Linked DNA regions of Homo sapiens: all the other regions are linked to region 4. The links come from fine-mapping of genetic effects on gene expression. A gene starts in region 4. Each other region holds a variant in brackets. All regions are shown on one strand. Distances are between the middles of the regions. Region 1 has its middle 88 kb from the start of PTDSS1. Region 2 overlaps SDC2 (syndecan 2). Region 3 overlaps CPQ (carboxypeptidase Q). Region 4 holds the start of SDC2 (syndecan 2). Region 5 overlaps SDC2 (syndecan 2). Region 6 overlaps CPQ (carboxypeptidase Q). Region 7 holds the start of CPQ (carboxypeptidase Q).

Region 1 (4,523 bases), 140 kb before region 4:
CCATCTTTATAGAAGCAAGCATTGATCACTGGGCATTAGCAGAGGTTCACTAAGAACAAGCCATGCAGAGCTAATGTTGTATTGCTTTTACACGTAGTTATCAGATTGGTAGATCAAGGGAATACTACAAATGAGCAAAGAGCAGAGTACAAATCCCACCTAAGCAAAAATAAAATAAAATAAAGGACCTACCTCAACTTTGAGAAACACAGTGTGCTACTGTAGTTTCTCTTGAAGATTCACAGGACACATTAGCACATTAAAGGTTCTGAGAAGTCCTGCACCAAAAAACCTATTTAATACCATCCCACTGATCAAGCATTCTACAGAACACACTCGGAAAAAAAAGAGGATGTTTTGGATGAATTCCAGCAGGTGTTTTGCAAAGCTTTTTATTACATAAACTGTGAGGAGGTAGAGAAATGAAATGTGGAGTTAAAAATAACTCACTGGAATCACAGCTGGGTAGACAACTGTACTGAAAGAGCATTAATTAATCGATGAATTGCCACCCTGTTGGAGGTGTCCAGTGGATGTCTCAAGGCTCTGCTCTTGGTCCTGGCATGTTCAACATTCTTATCAGTGACTTGTATCACAACATTGAAGACTTACTTTTAAAATGTTCAGATAGCCTAAAGCCAGAGAAGCAGCGAATATGCTGTTTAACAAATTGAAATACTCTCTCAAAACCAATAAATGAATCCAACAGGATCCCATTGAGACTTATTAGAAGCAATGGTGTAAGTAAGGGATGGATGAAATGTGACTTGAAACCAGCTCATATGAAAAAGACCCAGGTTGCAGCTACATCAAGATCAGCCCAAGCCAAATGTGTGACAGGTCTACTATGCTTCTTAAGTCAGCGAAGCCATCCTGGGCATGCAAATGGCGTGCAGGGCAAGCAAGCTAGGCAGGATGGTCTGGCCACACTGGGTATTGAATTCTGGTCTTATGGTGCATTTCAAGAGGGACATTGACAAACTGGAGCCTGTTCAGAGAATAACCAACATCAGGAGAGGTCTAGAGAACTTGTATGCTGAGAAGGAAAGTCTGTAGAAACCAGGGATATTTAGATGGTCTATAAGAGAAGATGAGGAGCATGGTGATGACAACTGGCTTTGAGAGGCAGTGTAGTGTAGTAGAAAAGAGGTGAGTTTGTGTTCAAATCTCTGCTCCAGTACTTCCAACTGTGTAACTTAGACAAGTTTCTTAATATCTCTAATGACTCTTAATGTCTCTAATGACTCTTCAGAGTCCTTAGATGAGAAACCATCATCCCTATTGAGTGGCACTATTGGAATGTGTTTGGAGCAGAGTAAGTGGTCAACACATGCTTGTCTTCCCTTTATCCATGTGAAGAATGGCAGTCACGGCAATGAGAAGGGTGACTATTTGCTATAGATTTGTGGGGAAAATTGGGACCAATAGGAGAATTCCCCAAAGGGAGACAGATTTGGTGATGAAAGGCAGGAACTTTATAATAACCAAAAACCTGGAAATCAAAAGAACTGGCTCACTGCCTTTAAGTTGACACTGGAACTTCCACAGATACTTGTAGAAGAGATCTCTGTTTGGGGTGAGAGGTGGGATTAGATGACCCCCCAGATCCCTTTCAACTCTAAAATCCTGTGATTCAAAGATACAGCCAGACTATTTATTGTTCTCTTCTGTATGTAGTTAACTCATATATTCACCCTCCCCATTCATGTATAGTACAGTGATACTTATATGTACTTACTTAAAGTTATTCCTTGGCCATTCCCCATGTATGGGTTTTTCTCTCTCCTCTATTAGTGTTCACATTACAGCCTC[G/C]TTCAGGAGCTTGTCCAAAGTGGGCACTTAATAAATGTTAATAGACTAATAAGAGAGGTCTGCGTAGAGTGATGACTGTGAGTCATTACTCATAATGACTCATACAGGCATATATTTGAACTCATACTGTATGACTCCTTTGGACTCATACAGGCATGTATTCAAATCTTGGCTCTACTTCTTGGGCAAGTTTCTGTCTGGGCCTCTATGTCCTCATCTATGAAATGGAGATAGTAATATTAGCTTTATCAGATGAAATGAAATAAGTTTGTTTTAAGTCCTTGGAAAAACAGTAAGTATACAGTAGATGGCAGATAGAATTATTTTTGTTGTTGCTACCAGAGTGAATGTAAATCTATTTAATACTTATACAGGGGTTTTCTGACTACACAGTAAGAGGCATAGGAACAAATGGGTTCTTCCTGCACCTACTTGTTTCAAAACATTTTCTCCTAAACAGTGTTCTTGTTTATACCCCAAAGCCTTCTTAAGTCTATTCTCCCATTCCTAGCAGCGTATATGATTGGCACAAAGAGGAACCAATTGGAAATGAGCAAAAATGGAGAGACTGAAGTGGGCATGACTTTAGCCTAGCCAGAAAATCTATGCCAAGGCCCAAGCTGGTCTGAGGCATCCTCATGGGGAGTACCTGGTGTGCAGTCTGCCCCTGCTGGCTACCGAGGGGGCCTCCAGCTGTGGCCACTGGAGAATTGGCCCTGCCATCACCCTCTTGTTGTGCTCTGCAGAACAGGGGAAGTGTCCAAATGAGCATTCCCTCGGGGGCCCTGTGAGCCCCTCCAGATAGGTCCTGACCTTGGTTAGGCCTAGCCCAGCATGGACCATGGCCTGAACTGCAAGATAGCCGACAAGAAAGTAAGGGAGAATAAAGCACAGATGCTTTGTAAAGTTTGTAATTATGGTAAAAAACACATAACATAAATTTTACTGTCTTAATCATTTTTATGTATACAGTTCAGTAGTGTTAAATATATTCATATTGTTGTACAACAGAGCTTCAGAACTCATTCATCATGTAAAACTTGTGAAACTAGGCTGGGTGTGGTGGCTAACACCTGTAATCCCAGCACTTTGGGAGGCTGAGGTGGGCGGATCACCTGAGGTCAGGAGTTCGAGACCAGCCTGACCAACATGGTGAAACCCCGTCTCTACTAAAAATATTTTTAAAAACTAGCCAGGGGTGGTGGTGGGCGCCTGTAATCCCAGCTACTCAGGAGGCTGAGGCAGGAGAATTGCTTGAACTCAGGATACGGAGGTTGCAGTGAGCTGACACGGTACCATTGCACTTCAGCCTTGGCGACAGAGTGAGACTCCATCTCAAAAAAAAAAAAAAAACTTGTGAAACTAAACTCTTACCCATTAAACAACTCCCCACTTGCCACCCCTCCTCGTTCCCAGCAACTGTCATTCTATTTTCTGTTTCTATGAATTTAACCACTTTAGATACCTCGTATGAGTAGAATCACACTTATCTTTTTTGTGTGACTAACTTATTTTTCTCATCGTAACATCCTCAAGGCTCATTATTATTAACCTCAGCGGCATTATTCACAACAGCCAAAAGGTGGAAGCAACCCAAGTGTCCATCAGTTAATGAATAGGTAAACAAATATAAACAAATTGTAGTACATCCATACAATGAAATATTGTTTGTCCATAAAAAGGAATAAGGTACTGACATGCCACAATGTGGATGAACCTTAAAAACACTATGCCACTTGAAAGAAGTCAGTCACAAAAGGCCACATGTTATATGATTACATTCATATGAAACTCCAGAAGAGGAAAACCTGTAGAGACAGTAAGTGGATTAGTGGTGGGCAGTACTAATGGGAGACTGAGGCAGGAAGATTGCTTGAGCTCAGAAGTTCACTACCAGCCTGGGCAACATAGCAAGACCCCGTCTCTACAAAAAAAAAAAAAAAAAACAACCAAAAAAATTAGCCCAGCATAGTGGCATGCACCTGAAGTCTCAGCCACTGAGGAGACTGAGGCAGGAGGATGGCTTGAGCCTAGGAGATTGAGGTTGCAGTGAGTCATGATTGTCCTCCTGCACTCCTGCCTGGGTGACAGAGCAAGACCCTATCTCAAAAAAAAAAAAAAAAAAAAAGTAGATTAGTGGTTGCCTAGGACTACAGGGAGGGGGCAGTGGAGGTGGAGTGATAGCTAAAAAGTACAAGAGTTCCTTTCTGAACTGATAAAAATGTTCTAAAATTGACTGTGGTAATGGTTACACATATCTGTGAATATAGTAAAAACCACTGAATTGTATACCTTATTTTTTAAACCACTGTATTGAAGTATGACTGATATACGAAAAGTTGTATGTATTTAATGGGGATAAGAATACACTCAAGAAACCATCACCACAATCAAAGCCATAAACTTATCCATCACCTCCAAAAGTTGCCTTCTGCCTCCTTTATGTATTTATTTATTTTAATTAAATTTTTTTCTTTTGTGGCAAGAGTACTTAACATAAGATCTACCTTCTGAGGAAATTTTTAATTATACAATACAGTATTGTAACTGTTGGCTCTATGTTGTACAGTAGATCTCCAGATTTATGCATCTTGCATATCAGAAACTTTGTACCCTTTGAACAATACCCCCCCAATCTTCCCCACCCAGCCCCTGATAACCACTATACTACTCTGATTCTATGAGTTTGACTATTATAGAGTTGTCATAAA
Region 2 (4,523 bases), 32 kb after region 4:
ACCCTGACCAGAAGAAGTAACATTCCTCAGGTTGTGGCTTTATCTAGAAAGGGGAAATGGCTATTTCTGGATTAGCTTTATACAAATGAGTGTATTTCCCACCTGCTGCTTTTGCCTAGGGTTGGAATTTTTCCTTTTCACTGCTTGTTACTTGGCGTTTGGATGGAAACGTATCCTCCCTTTCAGAGCCAGAAGATTCTGTGTGAGTCATCAAGAAAAATTTCTCCGAGGAGTTATTAATTCAGTTAGTTGCTCCATAGTAAATGGTTCATGCAACAGTGATAAACCTCTGAATTTGAAATCTTTCTTTAAAATCTTTTTTCCTTCAAAAAATGCATACAGTGGATTGCTGAGCATCTAAAATCCCGCACTGTTCAGCACTGTCATTCTTGGTAATTGCTTTTTAGAGGATTTGGTGGTGTTTTGCTGCTTAAGCTAAACCACGAAGTTAAACTTTTGTACTGTGGAAGTAGTTCATGAATCCTTTAGATTTCTTGGAAGAGGAAAGATGAGTGTGTGGTGAATATATATGAATATCGCATATTTGAATGTGTTACTTACTAGTTTTGGTTGAGCATTAAGGTTGCCCCTAATGGATGGGATCTCTGCCAGGGGTAACTCTTGGAGTCCTAGGTGCTATTGGGGAGGAACCTTTCATTCTCGGCATTCTGGGGGAGATTTACATCTGTAAGCCGGATAAAAATATGTGGAAAGGTGATTAGTTTAATTGGCCCACTATTATAATTATTCAGTAGGAGGTGGCTGTGGGACTGCTATTATAGCCCAAAATGCCTGGTAGGAAGAGGCGGAGACTCATTGAAAACAGCAGCAAGGTTATAAAACGTTGGTTTAAACGTGCATTTAATAACAGATTACCCTGGTGCTTTAAAGACAGAGGAATGCTTAAGTATTTGGTACAAGAATCCATCCAAAAAAAGACGCGGATTTTTTTTCAAAGATAATTGTGGGAAATTCTGCTAATGATTTCTTTTCCCTTAAAATATCATACAGGGGAGTAGGATTTAGGTAGGTGTAAAGTTGCTCAACGTGTTGGTAACTTTAAGATTATTTCTTCTCTGGTTGTTGCCACAGACACTCAGGGTGGCCACAATGGTGGTGTTGTTTTAGGCTTCTTTCAAAAAAGAAGTCCAGTCCAGGATAATGTTGTAAAGTGGAGTATTTTTCTTTCACATCAAAGGGCAAGGAATGTTTTACAGACAGTGAGCTAAGAAGTAGGGCACAGATATTTCAGTACTTGCGTTGGGAAACTATGTGTGGAATGTCATAGTTCATATACCAGAGACCCCGAAGTGAATCCAGGTGCCTGCACGGTGCTGACTTTTCCTGGAGTGAGATGACTGTAGGCAGAAATTGCAGCCAGATGAACCTAAAATAAAATTGATGGCTTTATTGGACATTCTTTTCATGAGATTTAACTTCTTAACGTGCACATACATCACTCTGGGGATGTCATTATCATGGCTGACCTTTCGTTTGGGGGAGCTGCTGCTCGCTGTCTGTGCAGCTCCGATCAGCTTGGCTTTGATTACCACCCACATCTGTTGAGCATGTGAGAGAGAGATTTTGAAAAATCTCAAGCACACTGACAACTGGCTACAAAGATTTAATTAAGACCGGTCAGAACTAATTTCAGTTATATATTCCAGTTTAGGGTATCAACTCCTCTGGTTTCAGAAGGGGGAGTTATGACTT[C/T]CTAAAAGTTGTTGTTGAAGGCAGCATGAGGAAATCTCCTTGGGCAAGCAGTGGGTTTCTTTGTCCTAGCTCCCCCACTGCTACCTGGGGTTAATGATTGCAGGGTGGCTGGCGTAATGAACCAGTGCCGGAAAGCTTATTATCAACATGCTGAAGTCATATTTAGAAATCATTCCTCCTCCTTTTTTCTCCTTTCCAATACAAGTCAGAGCACTGCTGTGGTTCCACCTAATAAATACTGCAGGCTTCATTGGGCTGTTCAATGAGACCTAATATAGTATCATTTGTGCACTTTAGTGGGTGGTTCCTATTTATATTTTTGTGTGGTTTACTGCTCAATCTTGGGAAGATGTGGGGTTTGAGGGTTTATCAGTTGCAGTTTTTTGTGGAACCAGTTTGAGTGAGACAAGACTTTGGCCATTATTTGTCGGGTTACATGGATCTCCATATGAGCTATGAAGATACTGGAATAATTGGGTCACAATAATGTAAAATCGTAGTCTGTACTTTCAGCTCATTCCAGAGGAATGATTGGAAGCCCTGCTCTCCCTCTCTTCTGCATGCAAACCTCAGGTGTGATTTCGGCCTGTGCCCAAGTGTTCTTGAAATGTTCAAGGCTGTCCGTTCCCACTCTGTGATGAGGCTTCCGGTTGATGTGTGACATCACTTAGGGCAGGAACTGGCACTGTCTTGATCCTGGCTGTCCTAGAGAAGCTTCTGTGCTTGGCCTTGGGAAGCCACCCCATTTGGTGCTGCTGTAGTCTCCTTTCTGCTCCTCTTTTAACAGCTGCCTCCCACCTGTGCTCACTTCCACCTGCAGGCCTTGTTTTCCAGTGGCACTGGAGTGCCATGCTGAGGTCACTGGACAAGTTCCTTATCAGAGCCCCCTTCCCATTAGAGTGAGGCTGCACCCCATCCTGCCTGGGCTTACTTTGTGCGTTGCTTGGGGGCATGGAGAAGGTTCTTGCCCTTGCTGCTTTATATGAGGTCCAATTCCTCCAGTGTTTGCCATCTCCTTTAGAGCTCTCTGGTGACAAAACCTTCTTCAGCTTGTCTACCCTCCAGGCTGGTGAGTTGAACTCAGACTGGTGCTCGGAAAGGTTAAAGGACTTGTCCAAGATGTTACCTTACTGGCAAACTGCATTCCCAAGTCTTTATTGATCTCCGAGGGCATCTCTTAATTTGTTGGAGTTTTCTTTTCCTGGAAAAAATACTGCTTGGGTCTCAGTTTCTCCACATATAAAATCAGAATAAGACCATAAATTCATGTAGTTGAAAGGGGCGGTTTCAGGAAGAAAACTAAGATAATGAAAGCCTCCGGAAAAGGGTCTGGGACGACATTATTTACAGAGTACTTTCCACACATTGTCAGGGTGGGGCCGCACAGGAACCTTGTGGGGTAGGCATCATTGACCTGTTTCAAAAATGAACAAAGTCAGTCCCAGAGACCTTGAATGGAGGCTTATCAAAGCTAAGCATACGGCTTCAAGTTTAACCGTCAAATGGTAGAGTTAGTCATGGCTTTTGGATGTGCGGGCCAGGCATGGTGCAGGGCCAGGTATGTTTTAGCCTTGTGGTTCTTTTCCTGATATTTCGGTCCTGTGGGCCTCCCCAAAGTGGCTTTGCACCTATGTTTGTTATGGGCATAAGGAAGTTAGAATTCTATGAATATGTACTGATTTTTTGTGATTCTGAATTTAAATAGGCCTCTATAAAGCTAATACTTGAAGTTTTGTTGTAATGAAGCATCACAAATACTTTTACATAGGAAAAAGGACCAAGCTGATCTCCTTAAAGCGGTTGCAAAAACCACCCAGTTGTTATACGATTGTTTGTTTCATGTTTCTTGTTATGTGGCATATTTCCAGTAAGTGGAGGGACCAAATATTTTATAGTTACAGAAACTTCTTCTCTCCCTCCTTGAAGTTTAAAAAAGTGGATCAAATGTCTGCCTATTTTCAAGGAGGCAGGGAGACAGAAGATCTTTTCCAGATTGCAGGAAGGCCAACGCAGGTTGCACCCAGAGAACTATGGAAACCACTGTTGAGGAGGAAGGAATTGGGTGAAAATTAAAGAATCAAGCTAGTAAAAGTGAAAAGAGGCCTTTGGTTTTTTTTTTTGGACAGTTTTTAAGGGCCTTCATAAATACTTGGTGTACTCCTCAAAGACCAAGCGTTGAAGGGTTAAGTCAGGGAACTAAAACTTGGATTGTGTGTTGACCCCTGTGTAGCTGTGGCCAGGGCTCCTGATTTTCCCCTGACGATCCATTGGTAGAACAAGGCCAGTGGTACTGTTTTCTGGTGCAGGGGAGGCTCGGACCTGCAGGGGAGTTACGGAGGCTGGCCACTGGTTTGGAGCAGACAGGTAAGTAGCCTCTAGGGAGGTGGTAGCTCTGTACAACAGTCTGTTCCCAATGTCTGGGTGACTCTTGTTCCCAATACTTGGCTCTCTTTTTGGATGTCAGAGTCATATTCTTCATTCTCCATGTCTCCTGCTAATTTTTGGCATTGACCCATCCAGGATTTATTTCAGCAGCTAGCATGGTGCCTGACCTATCCATAGTAGGTGCTTAGTAAATACTGCACTCCACAGGGGGAAGAGGGCAGGCACGTTCTGCCTATTGACGTGGTGGGAAGAGAGACCGTGCTTAGGGACAGGTTTGGGAGCTTCATTATTTCTGCCTTGGGACTGTTTGAATGCACCCTATTTTGCTATAGGGGAAACACTGCAATAACATAAATCCCACTTGAATCATTCTTTGTTCTATCACCCCTGCCCTTATCACTGCTCTTGTAAGACAGACATCATAG
Region 3 (4,523 bases), 270 kb after region 4:
ATAAGACTGATTGCTGCTCACTATATTTCTCACCACTGTAGCCCCTGTCTTCTGAAACATGGTGTAAACTCTATGGGTAATCAACATCTTTTCTTATATTTTTTTGAGACCAGAATGGAAGGAAGCACCCATTTTATGTGGTTGTAAAAATAAAATATGTGATGTATGGTCTAAAACTACACCTGCCAACCTATTACTGATGATACATTAAATGGAATTTTTATACTCATAGTAATTCTGATCTTTGGCTTTCTGTACTTTGCCAGTCAATGAAGGTGTGTGCATGTGTGCATGTACATATGCGTGCATGATTTTTTCATAATGGGAGATGGGGGAGGCCCTATCATACATAATAGCCTGCTGCCTGCTGCCATGTTAAGAAGTCCAACCATTAGTCTGTTTTGATAAGCTAGGCATCTCAAGTAGCCCTATTGATTTTTCTTTAGTTCTTCTTCTTTTTTGTTTTCTGTTCATTTTTGTGTTTTTAATTTATCCTAGGCAGTTGAATTAAATTGTCTTCCACTTAATTCATCTCAGCTTCCCTCCCAGTCTTTTTATGTCCAAAGTCCTTCACCAGTCTTCCTATTGCCTCCAGATTGTGAGCCAATTTCTTGAAGGTGGAGCCAAGTCTCACTCTTTATATCTCCGTATAATACATGTTTCATACATACCTACTGATAAGCTGATCAGCTTAATGATGGGGATAGAAGTGAGCTCCTACTCCTGTTTTTTCCGTCAAAGGTAAACCCTGGAAAAGGACAAAGTTCGAGTAATATTTTCTACGGAGAGCTTGGAACTCAGACGTCTTCTATGGAGTTCTCATCTTCTTGCTCCCTTGCCTTTTGGTGAGGGAAAGAATATGCCACCTGTCTTGTCTCCTGGGACCATGCCAATAAGTGTGCTGCCCCAGGGGCTCTGCAGGATGGGTTTGTTCTCCTGCTCACCTTGCTCCATCCCTGCCCTACCTTTCATCTGCTTTCAGGAGGCTCAAATTGTTTTCTTGTTTCCTTCTTTCCCTTTCCCCCAAACCTCCAGTAAAGAAGAGATTTTGGTATTAAGAAAATGGGCTGTTGAATTCCAAAATCAGAAATAGACCACATAAATATGTATGAAGCATTAAAACCCTTCTTCGAAGTGTGATTTCCTGGCTAATGGATGCTTCTGGGATGATTATTATATATATTTTTGTACTCAATTAAGCCCTATTCAGACCAACTTATTTTTTGGTGAACTTAAGGACCTTATGATTAGCATCCATTAGCATTTCCATTACATCTATATTGTAATAATACCATCTAAAATTTCTATGCTGTATCTCTCACAGAGTGCTTTTATGCCATTATTTTATTTGATACTCCCAACAACACCATGAAGAATGTTGAGATTCTCTTAACATTTTTGTTTTATAGATGAGGAGACTGAGGTGCAGAACATTTAAGCGACTTGTCCAAAGTCATGCAGTGAGTAAGGGAGTGGAATGCTGACTAGGAGCCATGTCCTCAGCTAGTATGGCAAGGGCATGCTCCCTATCACTGCTAGTAATAGCAAATGATCACTACCACTGAGTATTTGCATCATGCCAGCTACTATATTAGGCTCTCTGTATATATTTTCTCATTTAATACTCCTCATAACCCTGCAAAGTAGGAATTGTTATTATTCCCCCCGTTACATAGAGGGGAACTGCAATTTAGAGAGGTTACGTAACTTGGTCCAAGTCACACAGCTAGTCCTAGTATACCTAGGACTATACTGCAGTTGGAACCCAGGTTTCCCTGATTTCAGGCCTCAGCCCTAGCCACGTGGGTCCCTCATGGTTTTACTGGACTGAGCTATGAAGATATTCAACATAGCATAGCTCATAAAGGCTGTTCCAGTTCTCATGATTCCCTGAGCTGTGATTACGAGCTCTCCTTGTGACTCCTATGGCTCTGGGGCATATTGCCAGAGGTAAAATTGGGAGCTGTATGGATCAGAAAGGCAGAGAAAGTGAAGGGACTAATATTTACTGAATGCTTACTATATGCCCAGTGGCCATTAAAACCCATATCACAGGAACCTTGTAAGTCTGGTATTATCATTTCCACTTTATGGAGGAGGAAACACAGGTTCAGAGAGGTAAAGAAACGTATGCAAGATTGTAAGTGGAAGAGTCAGGATTTTTAGTCAGGTCTGTCAGACCTTATAGCCCATGTTTTCTCCTCTATGCCTAAGTAGGAGTGGGCTCAGTGGTGATGTTTTAAGGGCTAATGTTGATGTTTTAAGGGCTAATGAGAAGGAGCAGTATTTCTAAAGGGCTTAAGGAGGATTATAAGGAACAGAGATGAATTTAGACCCTGGTGGTTATAATGCATTATAATCAGTACTCTGGAGCCCTATAAAGGAACTCATAAGAGAACCCAAAGAGAAGAAAAACTGTGGCAAGTTTTAGGCTACATTGCCTAGCTTATATCACAATGCCAGCAGCCTTCAACTGCAATACGTAGGAACTGGGACTTAAAAACCAGCAGAAACACATTGGTAAACATCATAATGACACGCATATTTAGGAAAATGATGTTTTTAATTTCAAAATCTATGCAGCCTTGCCTTATA[T/C]AGTCAGTGCTAGGAAGTTGTGGTGTACCAGGAAATGATTTACATTTTAGCCTTAGGCAAAAATATGGAACTTGTAATTATGTCAGAGAGAGGCAAAACCTTCCAGATTTTACAGCTTTAAAGCTGTAAAAGTCTCAGTTAGGATGTGTGTTGATTAAACTGTGGTGTGGCTGAGCATTTTGCCTGAAACTTCATAGGGAATAAGCATCTGTTAATGACTTTCAGGTAAAAACCTTCCTTCTAAACCTTTAATGCAGTATTGTCAAAATGTGGAAGTGGTGGGTGACAAGCATTTTCTTGTTCCTTCTAAGGCCTTCCTGATCCAAGGTAGTTTTGAGCACAAACGGCTGTGCTGGTTAAGCTTTTGGCTTGTGGGAAGAAAGCCGCACATCAACTCCTGATACGCACGAGCTAGCCTGAACTCTGTGATGACCATCAGATGCAGATAAACTGCCAGACAGAGAAGCTGTCTTGTAGATGTGACTTTGCTGCCTTCAAGAGCAGGGCTTTCTGCACCTATGCTCTAAGCGCCCTTAGTGTTCCTCTCCCAGTGGTCCTGGATTGATTTCTCTAATGGGGAGCCTCCTCTGTAGGGTCTACAAGGTGACTGGTGGATTGATTGCCCTACTCCACGTAATGTGAGTAGGCGATTGTAAAGGGGAGGCTGAAGAGCTTGCCTGTTTTCTTTGTTATTCTTCTTACTGAGAGAGGTGGACTAGAGTGGTAGTTCAAAGATCTGGCTCTGCAGTCACAGATCTGGGTACCAATCAAGGTTCTGTCCCTGATTTTCTGTGTGACCTTGAGCACATCATTTATCATCTCTAAGCCTCTTTCTCATCTTTTAATGCTTTATTCACAATACCTGGTTCACAGGATTGTTGTGGGAATTAAATGAGATAATGTGATATTAAGTCCTTAGGACTTTTAAAGTTGACATAGTATTATAACTGTTACCTCCGCTAATAGCGTCAAACCTTGGGTCTAATCAGGGCTCAGTCTCTTTACTATTTGTGTGACCTTCCTAACCATTTTGCCATTCTGTCTCCCTTCTGAACATAGCAAATATAACTAGCTTGCTTTGGCCTTCAAATTAATAGAATTCATCAGCCACAGATCTCTGTGAGCCACTTGCTCTGTAACAGGGAAGGAGTATGTGTGTCTGGCATGGGAGCTTGCCAAGAATATTTGCTCAATAGCTATGCTATTATACCATCACGTGCTGCTGTGGCTTTATAGGAAGTATATCCTGGATGGTTATTACATATTTAGCTGGAATTTAGTTTCCTAGGGAAATAAAAGTTTCATATTTTAAGAATAGACAATTATTTTGAACAAGTGGTTTATGTCCACAGAAAGTTCATGTTCTTATCTTTTATGTTTGAATGAAGGCACTGTGTATGAGGTGTCCCTGAACATTGGAAGTCTAAAGAGCATGGATTTGGATGTCAAAACTGGGTCCAGATTGAAGTTATGACATGGACCACCTGTGAGAGCCTTAATTTCTTCCTGTGTGAATGTAAATAATACCTACCTCATGGGATTAAAAGAGAAAATAATATAAGAAAGCATATATCATATTATGTAACACATAGTAGCCTCTCAATAAAAGTTACTGGTTACTATTTTGGGCAGATCCAAACATTATGTTAATAAATTTCAATGGCTCCCACATTTTATTCTTTGGGGTGGCACATTCTGTAGAGATATCTTAGGGGCTACAGAGGGACAGTGATGGAGGGACTAAGGAAATAGTATCCAGGCTCTCTGCCCCACTTCCCAAGAAGCTCTGCTTATGTCTGTTTTATATCTAGGGCATCTGAGATTGTTTTACGGGGGAGAAAGAAGGCTTTATAAGTGCTTTCAGTTCAATTTATTAATTTTTCCCTCAATGAACCGTAGTTTTAGTGTTGTATCTAAGAAATCTTTGT
Region 4 (4,523 bases):
ATATACTCTCAATGGAGTATTTATCATCTTTAAAGAAACAAGTCACTGAGCATCTCATCAACACCAAGAGCCTTGGGGTGTGCCTTCAGGGCAGCAAACAGATAATATCCCTTCAACACGTGTATCCACTTATTCATTTTTTATCACTGTCTGCCCAAGCTGAATCAGAGAGCATTCACCACGCTTCTTGTTACATGGGTGCCCCAGTAAACAGCAATAACTGTGAGAACCAGCAAATCAGTGGAGTGCACTTCCTGTTTTACTGGAATTCCAATTTATTTGATGAATACTTAACTGTTGGGGACAATGGAGGTGTGGCCTTGCCTGAAGGCTGGCGAGTAGACGAGGCCTCTTATGAGGACAGAGCTGGTATTTTATGGCTCTTTGCATGTATTTTGCATTGCTGCTTTTCCTTTGGAGGCCTTTTTAAGAAGTCTCCCCATCTCATGAACCTCTTCAACCCACAGACTCCATCTTAAAAATAAGGGCACTAGGCTGGTGGCTCACGTGTCTAATCCCAGGACTTTGGGAGGCTGAGGCAGGCAGATCACTTGAGCCCAAGAGTTTGAGACCAGCCTGGGCAACAATGGAAAACCCTGTCTCTATAAAAAACACAAAAATTAGCTGGTGTGGTGGCCTGTGCCTGTAGTCCCAGCTACTTGGTAAGCTGAGGTGGGAGGACTGCTTGAGCCTGAGAGGTAGAGGCTACAGTGCAGGCCACTGCACTCCAGCCTGGGCAAGAATGAGACCCTGTCTCAAAAAAAAAAAAAAAAAAAAAAAAGGCTGTGGTTCATTCTTTCAAAAGCTAAGTGGAGCCCACATTGGCACAGATGCCAGCTACAGTGTCTGTGGAATCAGAAGCATCATCTGATGTTACAACTTCTGGCCTATTGCTCTTTTTCTTCTTTCTCCTTTGCCTACTCTTCTATTTCTCCATATTACCTTTTTGTTGGCCAATGCCTTAGACTTGCTCATGAGCATTTGTAGGTTTGGTAGCTGGCACACAAAACCAAAGGAATAAGTGTCTCCAAGTTTGAGTTGTAATTCTCCAGTTAAATTTCTTTCTTTGAGATTTATTACAGTAATAGGTTACTAAGACATTTAATTCTCACTGAGGGTATGACTGTATTTTATTCTAATACTGAGTTGAAAAATTACCATGGCCTCATATCTATATATCTACATTGGTGTATTTTAAAGGCTCACAACTCTTATACGGTATAAATTGAGCTTTAGAGCAAAATTTATTCAAGATAATATTTATCATGTGTCTTTATGTACCAGGAATGAGAATACAATGGTGAACAGACAGAAAAGTCTCTGGTTTCCTGTAGTGGGCATTCCAGGAGCAGAATGGCGTCATAATTCATTTACTCTATAAGTCAGAGAGAAAAATGATGGCACGAACTGCAAGGGATTTGTGTGTAAAATTTGTGACAGTAAGAAAAAGAAACTGGAAGGGAATACGCATTTGCCATGTTCTATAATATGCCACAGACATTGTAACAAAATATTTCATGTCAGCTACTTCCATTTAGGAAATACATGTTCATTATTTTCTTCAAACTAAGAATTACTTTATCCCTCTTTTCTTTGAAGTTATCTTAAATCTGTTATTATTCAGGGTCTCTATCCAACTTCTCATCAAATTACCCTATTTGTAGCTTCCAAACGTTAACACCTATCTGCTAAAATGGAGCCTATAAAAAGCCTTAGTGGCATAAACTGTGTGTGAGGGAGAAATGGTATTTAAGCCCTTAATGAAGTTAGGAGCTTTCAAACTGTTGCACTTTGGGTTTACAGGATCCTTCCTCCATGTCCCTTTTTTGGGGGTGCGGAAGGATTTGGGAGAATGGGAAACACTCTCACTATATATTTATTACATTAATTATCTTCTCTTTTAAAATGCAATTTTCATGAACTGGCGATTTATGAACACTTCACATTGCTTGAAAGCATCTTACACTTTTTTTTTCCCTCAACTCACAAAGCAGTTTCTTTCTACTGGTCGAATTCTCAAGGCAGAAAAGCTACATACGTCTCTCGTTTCTTCACTAATTGTTCTCTAGAAAAGGGAAAGTGAAGAAGGGAAAGAGAAAAGACAACGGGGAAGAAAAGAGCATAGAGGAGAGAGGAAAAGTGGGGAGAGAAAGGAAGAAAAGGACTGAGAAAACGCAGGAGCCCTGGCTTGCCGGTGAGCAGAGCCGGCGCAGCCACAGCGCGGAGCCGCGGCGCCCACTGGTCCTCGGAGCTGCCAATCGGCGTGTAATCCTGTAGGAATTTCTCCCGGGTTTATCTGGGAGTCACACTGCCGCCTCCTCTCCCCAGTCGCCCAGGGGAGCCCGGAGAAGCAGGCTCAGGAGGGAGGGAGCCAGAGGAAAAGAAGAGGAGGAGAAGGAGGAGGACCCGGGGAGGGAGGCGCGGCGCGGGAGGAGGAGGGGCGCAGCCGCGGAGCCAGTGGCCCCGCTTGGACGCGCTGCTCTCCAGATACCCCCGGAGCTCCAGCCGCGCGGATCGCGCGCTCCCGCCGCTCTGCCCCTAAACTTCTGCCGTAGCTCCCTTTCAAGCCAGCGAATTTATTCCTTAAAACCAGAAACTGAACCTCGGCACGGGAAAGGAGTCCGCGGAGGAGCAAAACCACAGCAGAGCAAGAAGAGCTTCAGAGAGCAGCCTTCCCGGAGCACCAACTCCGTGTCGGGAGTGCAGAAACCAACAAGTGAGAGGGCGCCGCGTTCCCGGGGCGCAGCTGCGGGCGGCGGGAGCAGGCGCAGGAGGAGGAAGCGAGCGCCCCCGAGCCCCGAGCCCGAGTCCCCGAGCCTGAGCCGCAATCGCTGCGGTACTCTGCTCCGGATTCGTGTGCGCGGGCTGCGCCGAGCGCTGGGCAGGAGGCTTCGTTTTGCCCTGGTTGCAAGCAGCGGCTGGGAGCAGCCGGTCCCTGGGGAATATGCGGCGCGCGTGGATCCTGCTCACCTTGGGCTTGGTGGCCTGCGTGTCGGCGGAGTCGGTGAGTGGGCCAGGCGGAGGATGCGCGCGCCGTTTAGGGTGTTTGAAGCTACGAGAGGAGCCCGCAGGGAATAGGGGAGCGCCACCTGGGGAACCCCCAGTCCCCAAGTATACACCGGAGATCCGCTGGGACAAATGCGCTCGTCCGGTCACCCTTTCCCCCTCTTCCCTTCCTCAGAAAAGCGCTGCTCGCTGGCGTTACCCCGCGGTCCGCGGGAATGGGGGCACCGAGAATTGCGGTTTGGTCTAGCCGCAGAGGCCCCTGAAGTCACTCCCAACTTCTTCGCCCTCGGCGGGTCTTGCTGCGTGGTCTGGGAAGGACGGAGGGGAAAGGGTGGCAGGAGGGGGGAGCCTGGGTCGGGCCCGCGAGGGAACGGCTCCACTCCGCGCGCTCCTCGAGACCAGGGATGACCTGGAAACTTCGGGGTCCCTTCCTCCGCACACCATCCCCCCCGCGCCAGCTTTCCTGTTTGACTGCATGCAAGTTCTGGGGAGATGGGGGCCAGATTTAAGAGACCCGCGAGTGTCCAGAGAGAAAAGTTTGCAAAAGTTCTTTTGTTTGATGCTCCCTGCGGCTAGGGCGAGGTAACCGACACTACGTGGAATCGCAGTAGGCGATCCCTCAAGGGGATACTGGGGGAGGCACGGAACGCGTCCGAAAATGCTGGGACGCCGGCCACTGGATTCCCAGTCCTGCGGCGACCCCCTCCTCGTTGAGGGGTGGAGGTTGCACCGCGGGGCGTCAGGGACGGGAGGACATTTTCATAGGAGTTACACGGGAGTGCCGCAAGCAGGGCGAGGCGGGGTACGTGTGACACGGCGCTCGGCTTCGGGTCGCCTGGCCGCTGGGGGACAGAGGCTTCCCTCCCGCCACGCTCGCCCTCTCTGGCCCTGGCGGGGCGCTTCTGGGGCCGGGAGGAGTCTCGTCTCCGGCGGAGCGCCTGCCGGCACCCAGCTTCCCTCCCCCGCCCTGGCGGTGGGAACTTGATTTCTCCTTTTGGTCGCGCTTCGGGGGCTGGAGCTTGTTTCCCCACGTCGCCCAATGAGCGCCCTCTAAAGGGAACTGCCTCCTTGGCCTCCTCTCGTCCGCAGCTGCCTCCACCTGGGCGCCAGGAGCTCTGTCGGGCCAGGTGGAAGCTTGAGCACCCCAGATTTCGTCTGCAGCCTCAGTGCCCTCTGGGGTCTCAGGGAGTGCGGCTGTTTCTGGCCCTTCTGGTTCCCCACGTCCTCTCCCTTTGCCATTTAATAACGTGTCAATTTCTAATTAATTGAATGGTCTTTTCAAAGACAAATTATATCATCTTAAGGTCTTTTAGGTAGTTTTATGAGTTTGAGTCTCCCTCCCCCCCTTTTTTGTGCTGAGGCTAATTTAGGACTGGGAAACCTCTTTGGCATCGAGCGGCAGATGGACATTTTTAATCAGTGTGGGAGCCTCTGTGTGTGCTAGCAGATCCCCATACGTTCTTTGTGGTTGGAGAGCATGTAGAATTGGAAACTGTACAGACTACATGAGTATTTTG
Region 5 (4,523 bases), 38 kb after region 4:
TTCTGATGCCCCTCGGCCCTAAAGACAGCTGGACAGAGCTGGGGTGGAGGCCCTAGGTCAGTTACTTCCACCCAAGGGCAGCCATTTGTTTTTCCCAAGGAAAATAGTACCACAAATCACTCTCAATGCACTCTTAGATAATGAGTTGTCTTACTTTTAAATTCAAGAGGTGAGAGCTACATGGAAGAGGAGATAATTTTGGACATCACAGTGAACCATTCGTCCTTCCCAGTCAATATTCAATAGGTATGTTAAAAAATGAATGGAAGAAAACACATCAAAATGTTATTAGTAATTATCTCTGGTGATTGACTTACAGGTAATTTTTATTTGCTTATTTATAATATTCCGCCTCATTCAAATTTACTGTTAAGAATTTGTTAAATTTAAATAAGAAAAGTTATTTAAAACAAATCCCAACCTGTACCCATTTTTACATTTAAAAACTCCATGAGTACGAGTGACGGCTATGGCTGTCAGAGTTAAGAATCTAACAAAAATAAAACGGCAAACATGGACCCATTTCACATTATGGAAATATCCTGGGATATTTTCATTCCAAGGTTTCTTGCTCAGTGCTTACTTTCAAGGCTGGTTTCAGGTGTGAGGAAGAAGCTTTGAGCAGAAGGCCTGTTTGTAGAGTGAGTGAGTAGCCTTCTTACTTGGGGCAGCTGACCCCAAAGGTCTTCCTCTCCATCTCCCTCCTTCAGTGCTTTCTTCCCTTATTTTTCCCCTTCCCTGTGACCCCTGAATTGCTGATAATTCCTTTCCTTCTTTGTTCTTCTCAATCCCTGGTGTGTATATGGTTAGAAGTTCCGGTGCCCACTTAGCTGAGCCACAGAGATTCCATTTTTAACTGGTCCCTCATATGCCAGCCCATCTAGTTCCTCAGGCATTACCGCCTTCCCTCTCCCAGCTTTATTCTGCTTATTTACATCTTTCTGGGAATGATGTGCTTCAAACTTTCCAACCTATTAGTTTAAACCAGATTTAGTGGCAGGGGCGGGGGGAAGTAGACTTTCTCTGCCCTTTGGTTTTGCTTTACTTTGAGATAAACACTATATACATTAAAGGTGCTTAAATGATGTTTTCTCTGACTTCCTAAAGGGGTTACTTTTCATTGACTCCTAACATTTTAATTCTCTGATTGTGATTGTTTTGTCTAAATCATGGGGTGGAGTGCATGTGGGGAATTAGAAAACTAATTGTCATTATAACCTTTCAGCAGAATTTTGGAATGATTAATAGCTATGTTAATATGCCATAACATAATTACTTATAAAAATCAGAATATACCACCACCTTGTTAGTATTAAAATGGTGCTAGGCTGGGCGCGGTGGCTCACGCCTGTAATCCCAGCACTTTGGGAGGCCCAGGCAGGTGCATCACCTGAGATCAGGAGTTCGAGATCAGCCTGGCCAACATGGTGAAACCCCGTCTCTACTAAAAATATAAAAATTAGCTGGACGTGTTAGCGGGTGCCTGTAATCCCAGCTACTTGGGAGGCTGAGGCAGGAGAATTTCTGGAACCCAGGAGGCAGAGGTTGCAGTGAGCTGTGATCGTACCATTGCACTCTGGCCTGGGAGACAGAGTAAAACTCTGTCTAAAACAAAACAAAACGAAACAAAAAAACCTGCTAAAATATAAGTTACTTTCTTTATATAACATTTTAGGACCTTACAGTGTACCTTAACTTTCTGAGCATAGATAACAAATGAAGATAATAAGAAATATTGTTTTATATTGTTTATAAAGCACTGTGCCCTACATTGCAGTTTATAGAACCACATAACAGTTGGCCATGGGCAGTATCTCAGGAAGCCTTAAAATCTCGGGAAGACTGACAGAATGGCGGAGCTAAGATGGACCTCAGGGTCATCTAATCCAGTGTTTCCCAACCATTTTCACATCATGGCACACATTGAAAAGGTGCACAGCACACCCTGGGGAAATAAATGACTGCTCTTGGCTGGAGGTAGTGGATCTGAGGACTCCAGCCTAGGCTGTGTCCAGCTCCCCTGAGGGCTGATGGGCATCAGAACCTTGGCGCAGCTGTCCTGGGGCATTCCAGTTGGGAACTGTGATCTAACCCAACCCTGCCATTTTACAGATGAGACACATCTGCATTTACATATCGAGACCCAGAGAGGTAAAGTAGATTGTTCAAGGTTACACAGTGAATTAGTGACATTATGATAAATAGAATTTGAGCATTTCAGAAACTGGAGTTTAATATAACTTCTCTTTTACATTGCATGCCTCATTATGTTGTTCTTACAGTACATTAGAACTTTTATAGGGCACGTTTTTCCAAAAGGTTTACCTCTGCCATATTGTATATGGAGAAGTATGATTAATATTAGTAAATTATAGATATATCTCTTTTGGACAACCTA[A/G]AGAATAAAAGGCTCTTTTAAACCCCAAATTCAAGTTAAAAATTAAGATTACGATGCTAAAAATAGTCTAACATATGTAAAAATGATTTAAAAAATTTTATTTACACAAAGAATGTACTCAGGCTATGAAACTTGTATGCTGGCAGTTGCCTCACTTTAAAAAATAAAAGAGAGAAAAGTAAGATGGAAAAGAAAATTAAAATTGTAAACATTTTAATGACTCACCACTACCTCCATCCTTAGATTTCTTTGCCATCAACTATTTAAACCCTTTAAGAATATTAGGAAACCGTGGTTACTTGGCGTGGTTTTATAAATCTGTTCTGGTAATCTCTAAATTCTCCTTCAACCCCATGATGATTCACTGATTCTAGTGTAATGAGGGCTTGGTTCAGCCTTACATATATTTATGTGTGTGTCAACCAAGATGTACATGGGAACATGGCATCTCATCTTCAGTTCTTTGTCTGAACCACAAAATTTATGTGCCAATTCAGGACAGTTTATGGCGCTAGGTTTGTAACATCAGAGTGACTTGTTCCACCATGACCTCAAGATGGTAGCTGTAGACTAGCGACACCTTCCATTAACAGCTGGTTGACCTTGGAGAAGTTCTATAATCTCTTTTTTTGCCTCTGTTTTTTCATCTGTGAAGTGAAGGACAGGCTGCCTACCTGCTAGGATTGTTATATGGATTAAATGCATTAGTTAGTGCAAAGTCTTGAACAACACCCAGTGCACACAGAAATAAATATGATAAATAAGTACAGTGAATGTGGGCCGTTTTCATCACCATTATTAGTAATAGCTGCCATGAGTTGTCATTGAACAGGGAGCAGTAAGGGGGCCTCCAGGTATAAACAAGACCCACCCTGCTTTGTCAGTCTCAGGTTTTATAAAAATAGTCGCTGCCTAACTGAGTTCTTGGGGCACTAAGGAATAGGATTATTATTACCAGATGCCCCTGAGTCTCTCTGCTTATTGAGGCGTTTTTTTTTTTTTTTTTTTTTTTGGTAGGGCTTTGTTTGGGAAAAAAAAGAAAGAAAATCTACCTCCAGGGACATGGGTAAAATATTTTTTCCCTTAGTTAACGTTAAATTCCAGTCATTCTTTTGCAGAAGTGTTGTGGAACAGAAGGGAGGGGTAAAGATTCCAACTTTAGACATTAGACTAAGAATGCATGTAATGAGTACCCAGACAGCATGACACTTTTTCAGTTATCACTGCCACCCCCATCCCCCCAAAAAAACACACTGTGAGGGAAAGAGCAAGAGCTGTGAACTCAGACAGGCTGAGTGCAGCCCCTAGCCCGCACTTAATGGCTGAGTACATCCGGGCTATGCATTCACCTTCTCTGATGGGTCTTCTAGGTTGGAGTCATCTTCTAGAGGTGCTGTAAGCTGGTGTAAGAGACTAGCAAAGTGCCAGCAGCATAGGCCCTGTGCCCTAAATGGGCCCACATTTTTCTGAGTTCATCTTTGCTAAAGGGATTTTTTTTCTTAAGTACATACTGTATCCAGAATTGGTGGGTTCTTGGTCTCACCAACTTCAAGAATGAAGCCGCAGACCCTTGCGGTGAATGTTGTAGTTCTTAAAGGCAGCGTGTCCAGAGTTTGTTCCTTCTGATGTTTAGATGTGTTTGGAGTTTTTTCCTTCTGGTGGGTGCTTGGTCTCGCTGGCTTCAGGAGTGAAGCTGCAGACCTTCGTGGTGAGTGTTACAGCTCATAAAGGTGGTGTGGACCCAAAGAGTGAGCAGTAGCAAGATTTACTGCAAAGAGCAAAAGAACAAAGCTTCCACAGTGTGGAAGGGGGACCCGAGCAGGTTCCCACTGCTGGCTTGGGCAGCTTGCTTTTATTCTCTTATCTGGCCCCACCCACATCCTGTTGATTGGTCCATTTTACAGAAAGCTGATTGGTCTGTTTTATAGAGAGCTGATTGGTCTGTTTTGACAGGGTGCTGATTGGTGCGTTTACAATCCCTGAGCTAGACACAAAAATTCTCTATGTCCTCACTAGATTAGCTAGACACAGAGCACTGATTGGTGCATTTGCAAACCTTGAGCTAGACACAGGGTGCTGATTGGTGTATTTACAATCTCTTAGCTAGACGTAAAGGTTCTCCAAG
Region 6 (4,523 bases), 420 kb after region 4:
TACAGGTCATGAGAAAAGACTTGTTGAGTCCTATCCTACTGTTAATAAATGTGCTGTTGATAGGAAAATGTTGGCAGAAGTGCCAATATGAATAGTCTTCTAGTTGCTTTTCTGATGGTTGTGACATAATGAATCTCAAATGTGACTTTTGTCATATAATTGGAGGCTCTGAACATTAAGAACATTTTCTTAAGGATCATCCAGGCAGAAAATGAGTTCACAGGTTTTTAACATTTTTACTGATGGTTCCCAAGGCTCCACCTGTCCCTTCATTCTATTCTATACTGCCTCTTTATTGGATTTCTCCCCCACTGCAACGTGTGTGTGTGTGTGTGTGTGTGTGTGTGTGTGTGTCTGTGTGTGTGAGGAGAGAGAGACGAGAGAGAGAGGAGAGAGGGAGAAGAGAGAGAGAAGAGAGAGACAGAAAGAGAAAAGATTGACAATATATTTCAGAATTCTTAAGGTTTGCTCCTCATTATTCTGTGATGTGCAGTACTATTCATAACAGAAAGGTCTGATAATTAGCTGCCTTGGGATGTTCTAAAGGTGAAGCCACTCTCCTGCAATGCATCTTGCAAGAGAGATTAGTGATGTAGACTGGAGGTTGGCATGTGACAGAGACTGTTAAGGACAAAAGCAGATTGATAACAGTGAAAGCTGCTGCTTGGACAGGTTCATGGATTTAGAGAGCGACCTCCCCGCCATGGGAACTGGATCCCTATGAAACTGTGGCATGAACTACAATGAGATGAAATTACCTCAGAGAAAAATCTGAAGGCACATTTGAGGGTTGGGACATTGCTTAGGAAGCTGATTACCAAAGACAAAAACATTCATGTGTATAGTGGGAGAATGGGAGATAGGTTACTCTTTAAATAGCTAGTTGGCATTGTCATTGAAGTTTGCCTTACTGGAAAAATTATGCAGCTATTTCTCTTTTCAGTTTTATACACATGCGCACACACACACACACACACACACACACACACCATATATTCTGGGGAAGAGGTGTTTTATTTTCCTTTTGTATCATGATTTCATAGACCCTTATATTCTCTAAGAGATCTGGGCTTTCAGCCACATTCCCATAGGATTCTGGAATTTTTCCCTCTACCCTCAGCCTGCCCCATCACCCAAGTGTGATTTTTGTGATTCTTGTGTTTCTCTAGTGTCTCACCAACTGTATTTCTAAAGCTTGGTCAGTGTTCCATCTTGGATTTCTTGTTTTGCCACTTGTGATGGCAATTTATAATAAAACCAAGATATGACCTGTTTTGTATCCAGCAATGAAACAAGTTGGAATCTGCCTGTGATGTGCAATGTGCCTTCAATGAAGGGGCAGCTGTGATGTGAATGGATCTTGGGGGAGAGAAAGGACCTTAATTTCTCTTCTCTTTTCCCATGGATATAAAACTTTGTTATGGTAAACTAAACCTCTGATATCATATGCAACCGCTGGCATTCTAGATTGTTTTAATGGCCACTCCTTATTGCTTCATGCTAAGCGTTACCATCTGTTTCTTTCTTAATTATAAATGCAGCAGGAATTCACAATTACATCAGTAACGGTGGAAATAAAATGGAGTTAGAGGCTTTCTACTTAACACAAGGCAGCCTTCCTCTAATATTTTTCTTCTGTTACAGGCATTGGTCAGAGAGGAGACTTTTTCAGTGGTTTTCTTTTCCCTCTCTTCAGTATACTTACCATGAGAATGTCATGCTATAAATTCAGCAATTTCCTTTTAATGAGAGGGAGAGCTGTGTTTATTTTCTGTCCATGGAGCTGGGGATGTGTGGGCAGCTCTTTCTCACAGTATTGGAAACCAGTGGTGTGACTGTCCTGCTGTTATTGGCCTCTGTTTTTGTGAAAACAGATGAGTTATAATAGCCCAATGACATGAGTCATGTCATCCCCCAGAGGAGAGCTGGGAGTGGACATCTAAGAAACTCTGGTAGCCAGCCTGCCTGTCTGTGAATATATGGGAACATTTATACAGGGAGGTGATATAAAAGCTGAAGACATGTTTAACCCA[G/T]ATTACTTAGGCTTTTATTTTTCATTAAGTGGAAAAACTAATCAAATTTCAGACTCATGAAATTTTAGTGCTAAAAGAAACCCTTATAAATCACCTTGATCAAAGCTGTAGTGACTGCCCTTTCCTTTGTGTAGTGCTCGACCAGGTTGAGCACGGGATTTGGAGTCAGCAGAACAGGTTTGATTCTGAAGCCACCACCATGGACTTTGAGTCCTCTTCACTGAGTTTTTAGTGTCAGTTCTCTTTATCCATGACAGGAGACATGATGCTTCTTATGAAGCCTATGTTTGGATTAAATGAGAGGGAACAAGTAAATCCTAGCCATTGTGTGGCCGGTCTGTGGGGTTTTTTTCCCCTTCTTTCCATTCACATTTATGATAGATGAAGAGATATTGGTCCAGAGAGGTTAAATGCCTTGCCCAATATGATACATCTAGTTCAGGGTGGACCTGAAGTAGAAGTAGTTTTAAAACTCTATTTCAAGGCTTTTGCTTACTATGTCATATCTAGACCCTTTGCTACCTTTCTCCATCCTTGTCACCATTGTACAAGGATATGTACTTTTGCACAATGAATAACCACAATGGTTATCATGTGTATGATACTTTTTAAATCTGTAAAGTACCTTTTAAAATGTATATTCCCATTTAACATGAAGTAGGTGAAATAGTGTTATAATCTTTTTTTTCTCTCTCTCTTTGAGACGGAGTCTCACTCTGTCGCCCAGGCTGGAGTACAGTGGTGTGATGTCAGCTCACTGCAAGCTCCGCCTCCTGGGTTCATGCCATTCTCCTGCCTCAGCCTCCTGAGTAGCTGGGACTACAGGGGCCTGCCACCACGCCTGGCTAATTTTTTGTATATTTAGTAGAGACGGGGTTTCACCGTGTTAGCCAGGATGGTCTTGATCTCCTGACCTCATGATCTGCCTGCCTTGGCCTCCCAAAGTGCTGGGATTACAGGCGTGAGCCACCGCGCCCGGCTGAAGTAGTGTTATAATCTTATCCTTCCTCTTATTTTAAGTTGGAAATTCTGAAAGGTCAAGTATCTTGTTGAAGTCACACAGAAGGCTGAGTCAGGACTTGAACCAGGTTTTTAAGACTTTCCATATATGGGCTTCACTCTATACTAGATGGACTCTTACTGTTACACCAGTACATGTAGGAGAGGACTGAAAGATGCAGTAAAAAGAAATCGATATTATTATCTATAATTTAATAGTTGTAGTTAGGACTTTTTATGATGTGAATACTATAAGACCAAAACCATTTTCTTGAATTATATTAATATTTTAGCGATCCACGTGCTTTTTACCCACCAGAAGGTTCCCCTGGGTAAGTAAAGAGGTGGAGCAGGAGAGAGCAGGTTTGCACCGAAAGTAGTTACAAAACAAAACAAAACATATAAGACATCAACCACAAGAAGCCCTTGCTCCAAAATGCAAATGACTTATTTGCTACTTCAAAAATGCACCTCATCAATGAAGGGATCATTTGATCATTTGTTCCTGCCAAGTTTATGTTTAGTCCAGGAAGGGTCAGGCTGGTGCATATTCTCACCCAGGGGTCTGAGAGCACAGTGGCAGGTGTGAAAAGAGTCTTTGGGCCTTGCACTTGCCTTTTCATGCCAATGCCCTCATCCAAATAAGAAGTCCCCTTTGCACTTTCCCAGCTTCTAGGCCATATGTTATGTCTGTTTCTTAGAGGGTGATTCAATGATTCCTGGTGATAATGACATCACACTGAGTTTTACTTACATCCTGTTTCTCTTGTATAATGCCCATGCTCCTCTTGTCATGCGGTCCTGAGCCATCAGGGCCCACTCTATAAAGCTTCCTGAAAATCAGGCCTTCCTGGCAACAAAACTAAATCTTTTAATCTCAGAAACCCTACTACTGACCATGTATAGAAAACCATGCAAATTTAAAGAATGTAAATATTGACATTCTCAGGTTTTCCCATGTAACCTGATTTAGTCTGATTTCCCTATTATTTCTGCCATTTCTGTGGGCATTTTACTGAAGCCAGGTTTTATAAAGCAGCCCAGAAGCAGCATCGTTCATAAGGTAAGGGCACAGGCTGTAGTATCGGCCAGACCTTTGGTCGAGTTCTGGCTGTGCAGCTTGACTGTGTGATGTCAAGTAAGTTCTCAGAGCCTCCCTTTCCCCATCTGTAAAGTGATGATAACGGTGCCCACCCATTAGCTGGTGCTGTGAGGATCGGATGAGCTACCGCATGCAAAGTGCTTAATTACAGGACAATGTTTTGCCTTTCTGACCCCCCAGAACCAGATGAATGATTCATTTGTGATGTTTTTCTCTTATTAGGAAGCTTTAGCTGGACAAAGGTCATTCAGGATTATTTTAACATATGAAATGCATTTGTTTTATTGAAAGAGATTAGAAATGTTATTTTGAAAGTTTTATACCTTACTTTAGAAGTCAAGTCTTATAACATTAGTAGGTTTTCACTTCAGGTTACTTTCATGTTCTGT
Region 7 (4,523 bases), 150 kb after region 4:
TGGGCCGGTGGTTTGCCTAGTCAGTCCCAATGAGAGAACCTGGATATTTCAGTTGAAGGTACTGAATTCACTTGCCCCTTCTCATTCCTCCCTGAGTGCTGCGGGCAGGGGCTTCTAATTGGCCATTATGGATTGATCTCCCTGCAGTGAAGTGTTCTAAGTAGGAAGAACACATGGTATTGTGGAAAATCAACATAGCATGGTGGCTCAGAAATAGATTCTGGAGCCAGGCAGGTTGCTTGGTTTGGAATTCTGGTCCTGCAACTTACTGCAACCTCTCTATGCCTTAGTTTCCTCACAGTTTAAAGAGGGATAAAATAATATCTATAGGTCTATTTGCGAGGTTTTAAAATTCTTGGAATAGTACCTGGCTCATTATACATGCTATAGAAATGCTTATTCAATTAAATAAATAAAAGCATCTTTGGTAAGATAACTCTGAACATTGTATGGTTTAGTAGAGGATGCTGACAAGAATAAATAATTAAAACATATCATGAAGTAAGCATAAAAGATAGTGGTAATGCAAAGATGCGAATGAGCTCTGCTTCCTGTGATTAGTGTGAGCAGACAAATTCACTGTACTCAGAAGCTTAAAGCCTAGCGTGGGAAGCTGACATGAATGAAAACCAACGGGAAAAAATGTTAGAGTAGAGGTGTAAGCAAGAGTGATTAATTTCAACTTGAAAGCAAATGGGGGAGGTTTCACAGAGAGGGGCCCAGCATGTTGGTTGATTGCTTGGGCTCCAGAATCAGGCCAGCTCAGTTTAATGCTGACTTTGTACCTCACTGGTTTTGTGACTTGACCTCTCTAATCCTCCATCTCCTTATCTGTACAGTGGGGGGAAATAATAATGATAATAATAGGTAGCTCATAGGACAAATAAGAATTCACAGTTAATGCATCAAAAATCTTAGCACAAGGCACTCAATAAATGTGAAGCTTTTATTGTTATTACGAGTTGAAACTTGAGTGGGAAAGAACTTCGTTCACATTAAACATGAGAAAAGGCCCAGAAGTTGAAAAGCATTTGACATAATTAAAGAACAGCAAGTCAGTGCCACTTAAACGGTAATCCAACCACCGCCAGTCAGTGAACAGCTTTTTACTGCTCCATGAACAGGTAAGTATAGAAATTGTGAGTAAGCATTTAGAAATAAAAACAACAACAACAACCAATAATTGAAAAACTAATTTTATACTTTTTGGCATACTCATTGTACACTTGTAATAAAAACTGGGCTTGTAGTTTTTGTCTCTTTTCTTATTTGCTAGCAGGTTTTGATTTGTATTTTACAGAAATAATGGTCCATGTCAGATTGGAAATAATAAAAACTTGTCTTTTACCCTTGATAGTTTGAGAAAAAAGTAATTCAGTGGGGTTAGATATGGCATCCGAGAGATGATTCGGGAAAGGTGGGCCAGGGCCATGTTTATGTGGACCCTCCAATGCCTCAGAGTTCACACTTGTTTCAGTGGGCAACAGGACTAGTAAGGTTTAGAGGGACTGTTAACCGAAGGTGAGTGGACTTTGCACATTTTATGGTATTTTTTTTTTCCCAGTAGGCATGTGCTTATTCTTTCTTTTCTTTTCTAATTAAAAGTTCTGTTTGGTTTTTTTAGTTAAGAGGAGAGACTGGAACTGCTCAGTGTTTCACAAAGATAACTGTTTGTATTTGATAAGAGTTTCGTTAAACAAAGGAATTTGCACTTATCAAAACATAAAGCATTGAAAACACTGAGCACATACTCTGTGACCAGAATGCGTGTGACTTGTTGAGATAAGCCACACCGGGTAATCAGATGAGTCTCCTTTCTTCTTGGGCACCCTCATATAATTCAGGCACAAACGAAAGAGAAAACGCTTTTTCTGATCTCTCAGTTCGGGTCATCTCTGCCTTCCATCATCACCGCCTAACAATCCTACACCTGGCAGGGTGGGAAAACGGTTTAATAATCTCTTCCCTTTGGGAGGCGTTTGACAGCTCAGAAAGCATGGCCTTTACTCAGGCTCAGAGACACACAAAAACCTTTCACGTTTTCCTTTCAGCTTCGCAGCCCCGTCCTTCTCCACCTGCACGGGCACCCACTGAAGCACAGGACCCTTCTGCCAAGCCATGAGCCTTCTCAGGCCCCTGCCGCCCGCCTCGCCTGAGGCTGCGCTTCTGAAAAGCACGCGGCCCTGGCCTGCGCACCACCCAGTCTGAAGGCGACGCCCCTGCACGAAGGAGTCAGGCCTAGGGGCTCGGGACCCAGGGCGACACTCAATTTTCTAACAGGAGCCACAGCCCAGAAGCTGAGAAGCCTTCCGGCCGATCTGTGGCCCTGAGGTCGCCCTTGGAGGGCGAGTGAGAACCCCCCAGGCGTTCCGGAGGTGGC[C/G]CCCAGCCCGAACCCGGCGCCCGCCCCGGCTTCCCGAGTCAGGTCTTTGCCCCGCCTCTCGGCCCCGCGGCCTGGCCGGCAAGCAGGGCTGCAGTCACGGGGCGGCGCGGAGGGCCCCAGCCCAGTCAGGGGTGTGGCCGCCGCCACCGTAAGGCTAGGCCGCGAGCTTAGTCCTGGGAGCCGCCTCCGTCGCCGCCGTCAGAGCCGCCCTATCAGGTGTGTTTGCAGCCGAACTGGCAGTGCCCGCGGGCGGCTGGGCCGAGGCCTTGGCTCCTACCCGCGGGGGTCGGGCGGGCTGAGGCTGGAGCAGGCCAGGGGCGGGGGCAGAGGGGGACGGACTTCCAGCATCGCTCATTCGGGGGCGTGACGGGAGGACCTGGCTGGGGAGCGGCGGGTTGGGAGCCTGTGGCTGCCCCTTCGGTGACAGTGGAGTCACCGAGCCTAGAAATGGGGAAGCTGTGACGTGGGGGTGGTGGAGGGTGCTGCGGGACAGCAGCGAGCACGGCCCTCAGCCGTCCTTCCCAACACGGTTTCACTTCCCCTCAGCTCCAGGGCTCAGCCCCAAGCCGCCCCCTTCATCCCCCATCTGCAAACAATCCTGGTCCCCCTGAGCCTCCAATATGCCTTATGCAGTTCTTTTGGGGTTCCTTTCGCATTTTACCGTGTACTTTCGCTTTTGATGCGTCTAGTTTCTGCTACTGGACTCTCCTAGAATCGAAGTTCCATGAGGGCAAAGTCCCATCTGACTTAGGACTCAGAGCTACTCAATAAGTAATTGAATGAGTACCTATGCCGTAGAACTGAGTGAATTAACAAATGAGTAAGTGAATAAATGAGTGCATACGAGATACAGCTGAATCAATCAGTGCATGAGTGAAAATAAAGATGTATGAAGTGGAAGCAGTGGAGACGCAGGCTTACAACTCCTGTTTTTTGATAGCTTTCCAAAAAGTTGTGTGAATGTCGCACTTTTGCAAATGGAGGCATTCTGATTGGGACCACTTAAAAAGAGTTCTATGCTGTTCAAATGGTCTCTGGAAACGCCCCCTGGTATTTCCATTTTTGTTGGACTTGGCTATATGTGTTTGCTTAAAACAAAATATGCCTAGGTTTTTTCTTGCTTGTGTTTTGTTCACTTCTACTTTGGACGTTTAAAGAATCATTGTCACTATAATATTATTTCATGTATTTCTTAAAGATAAGGGTGACTCTGAAGGCAGAACCATATGACTCTGACTTGTTTGTAAAACCAGGCTTTTCTTTTGAATTCAGAGTTGTTAAGAATCTTGTCTGTTTTCCTGAGACAGGTGCTGGCTGATTTGCAGGTGACTGAAGAAGGCTACATAAGGCCCAGAAAGACGCTTATCTGTTTGTAAACAAATAGGCTTAGCACATAGCTTTAATACAGTTGGTCACTGCAGCCGTTCTTACTTGCCAGGTCCAGGTTCCAGAAGAGCTGGATGACCTTGGACTTGCCACTTGATCTCTTTAGGTTTTAATTTCTTAATCTCCAAAATGAAGATGTTTAGCTAGGAACCCTGCCTGAGTTAAACCTCTGGGATTCTTTTGTATCAGGGTTAGAAGGTGAAATTACAGATGATTTCATGGAGTTCTGCTTACTTCACCTCCCATAGCATTTTGTCTCTGCTCTCTTCTTTGCTGTTTACAGCTCATTTCCTTTCTTCTCCACATCTGCAACAAGAAAGCCTGGGAGCTCAAGATAAGTGTAATAAACCCTAGGCTGGTGGGGAGAAAGGAGGGTAAGATTTTCTTCTACATTGTCACAGGCTCCTGGTCCTGGGTCTGACTTTTTTCCAGTGCAACCCAGTCTGACAATGCCATATATTCCCAGTATATCTGGGGAACTGCATCACTATTTCTTCGCATGCATTTGAGATTAGTTATCATAGATCACATTTTGGAGCTGGAAGGACCTTGGAGATTTTTTAAAGGCACTTCAAAAGTCATTATACATACATATTTAAATATTTTTGCATGCTACATTTAACAAACACAAAGTTCCAAATGTGTTAAGTAAAATGAAATTAATGTTACCTACTTCAGTGAATTCAAGTTTATAAGGAGAAGTGGAATACACATGTTGCTTGGTGAAAAGGGCCAACTTTCTCACACTGTTTTCCCA

Evidence for each region.
Region 1: its variant is fine-mapped to the expression of SDC2 in whole blood (TOPMed, PIP 0.92).
Region 2: its variant is fine-mapped to the expression of SDC2 in whole blood (TOPMed, PIP above 0.99).
Region 3: its variant is fine-mapped to the expression of SDC2 in whole blood (TOPMed, PIP 0.97).
Region 5: its variant is fine-mapped to the expression of SDC2 in whole blood (TOPMed, PIP above 0.99).
Region 6: its variant is fine-mapped to the expression of SDC2 in whole blood (TOPMed, PIP 0.92).
Region 7: its variant is fine-mapped to the expression of SDC2 in whole blood (TOPMed, PIP above 0.99).

Annotation. Positions count from the first base shown.
Region 1 is chr8:96,347,423-96,351,945 of GRCh38, forward strand. No RefSeq gene overlaps it. Among named protein-coding and RNA genes, the nearest start is that of PTDSS1, 88 kb to the left of the region's middle. The variant G/C (reference allele first, on the strand shown) is at 1,813.
Region 2 is chr8:96,522,840-96,527,362 of GRCh38, forward strand. The region is part of intron 1 of SDC2 (syndecan 2); the gene reads left to right. Among named protein-coding and RNA genes, the nearest start is that of SDC2, 31 kb to the left of the region's middle. The variant C/T (reference allele first, on the strand shown) is at 1,714.
Region 3 is chr8:96,758,260-96,762,782 of GRCh38, forward strand. The region is part of intron 1 of CPQ (carboxypeptidase Q); the gene reads left to right. Among named protein-coding and RNA genes, the nearest start is that of CPQ, 120 kb to the left of the region's middle. The variant T/C (reference allele first, on the strand shown) is at 2,596.
Region 4 is chr8:96,491,328-96,495,850 of GRCh38, forward strand. SDC2 (syndecan 2) reads left to right here and starts at 2,486. Exons shown (of 5, transcript NM_002998.4): 1 at 2,486-3,004. The coding sequence starts at 2,945.
Region 5 is chr8:96,529,026-96,533,548 of GRCh38, forward strand. All of the region lies in intron 1 of SDC2 (syndecan 2), which reads left to right. Among named protein-coding and RNA genes, the nearest start is that of SDC2, 37 kb to the left of the region's middle. The variant A/G (reference allele first, on the strand shown) is at 2,399.
Region 6 is chr8:96,907,790-96,912,312 of GRCh38, forward strand. All of the region lies in intron 4 of CPQ (carboxypeptidase Q), which reads left to right. Among named protein-coding and RNA genes, the nearest start is that of CPQ, 260 kb to the left of the region's middle. The variant G/T (reference allele first, on the strand shown) is at 2,034.
Region 7 is chr8:96,642,807-96,647,329 of GRCh38, forward strand. CPQ (carboxypeptidase Q) reads left to right here and starts at 2,436. Exons shown (of 8, transcript NM_016134.4): 1 at 2,436-2,596. RefSeq lists a silencer at 2,311-2,860. The variant C/G (reference allele first, on the strand shown) is at 2,381.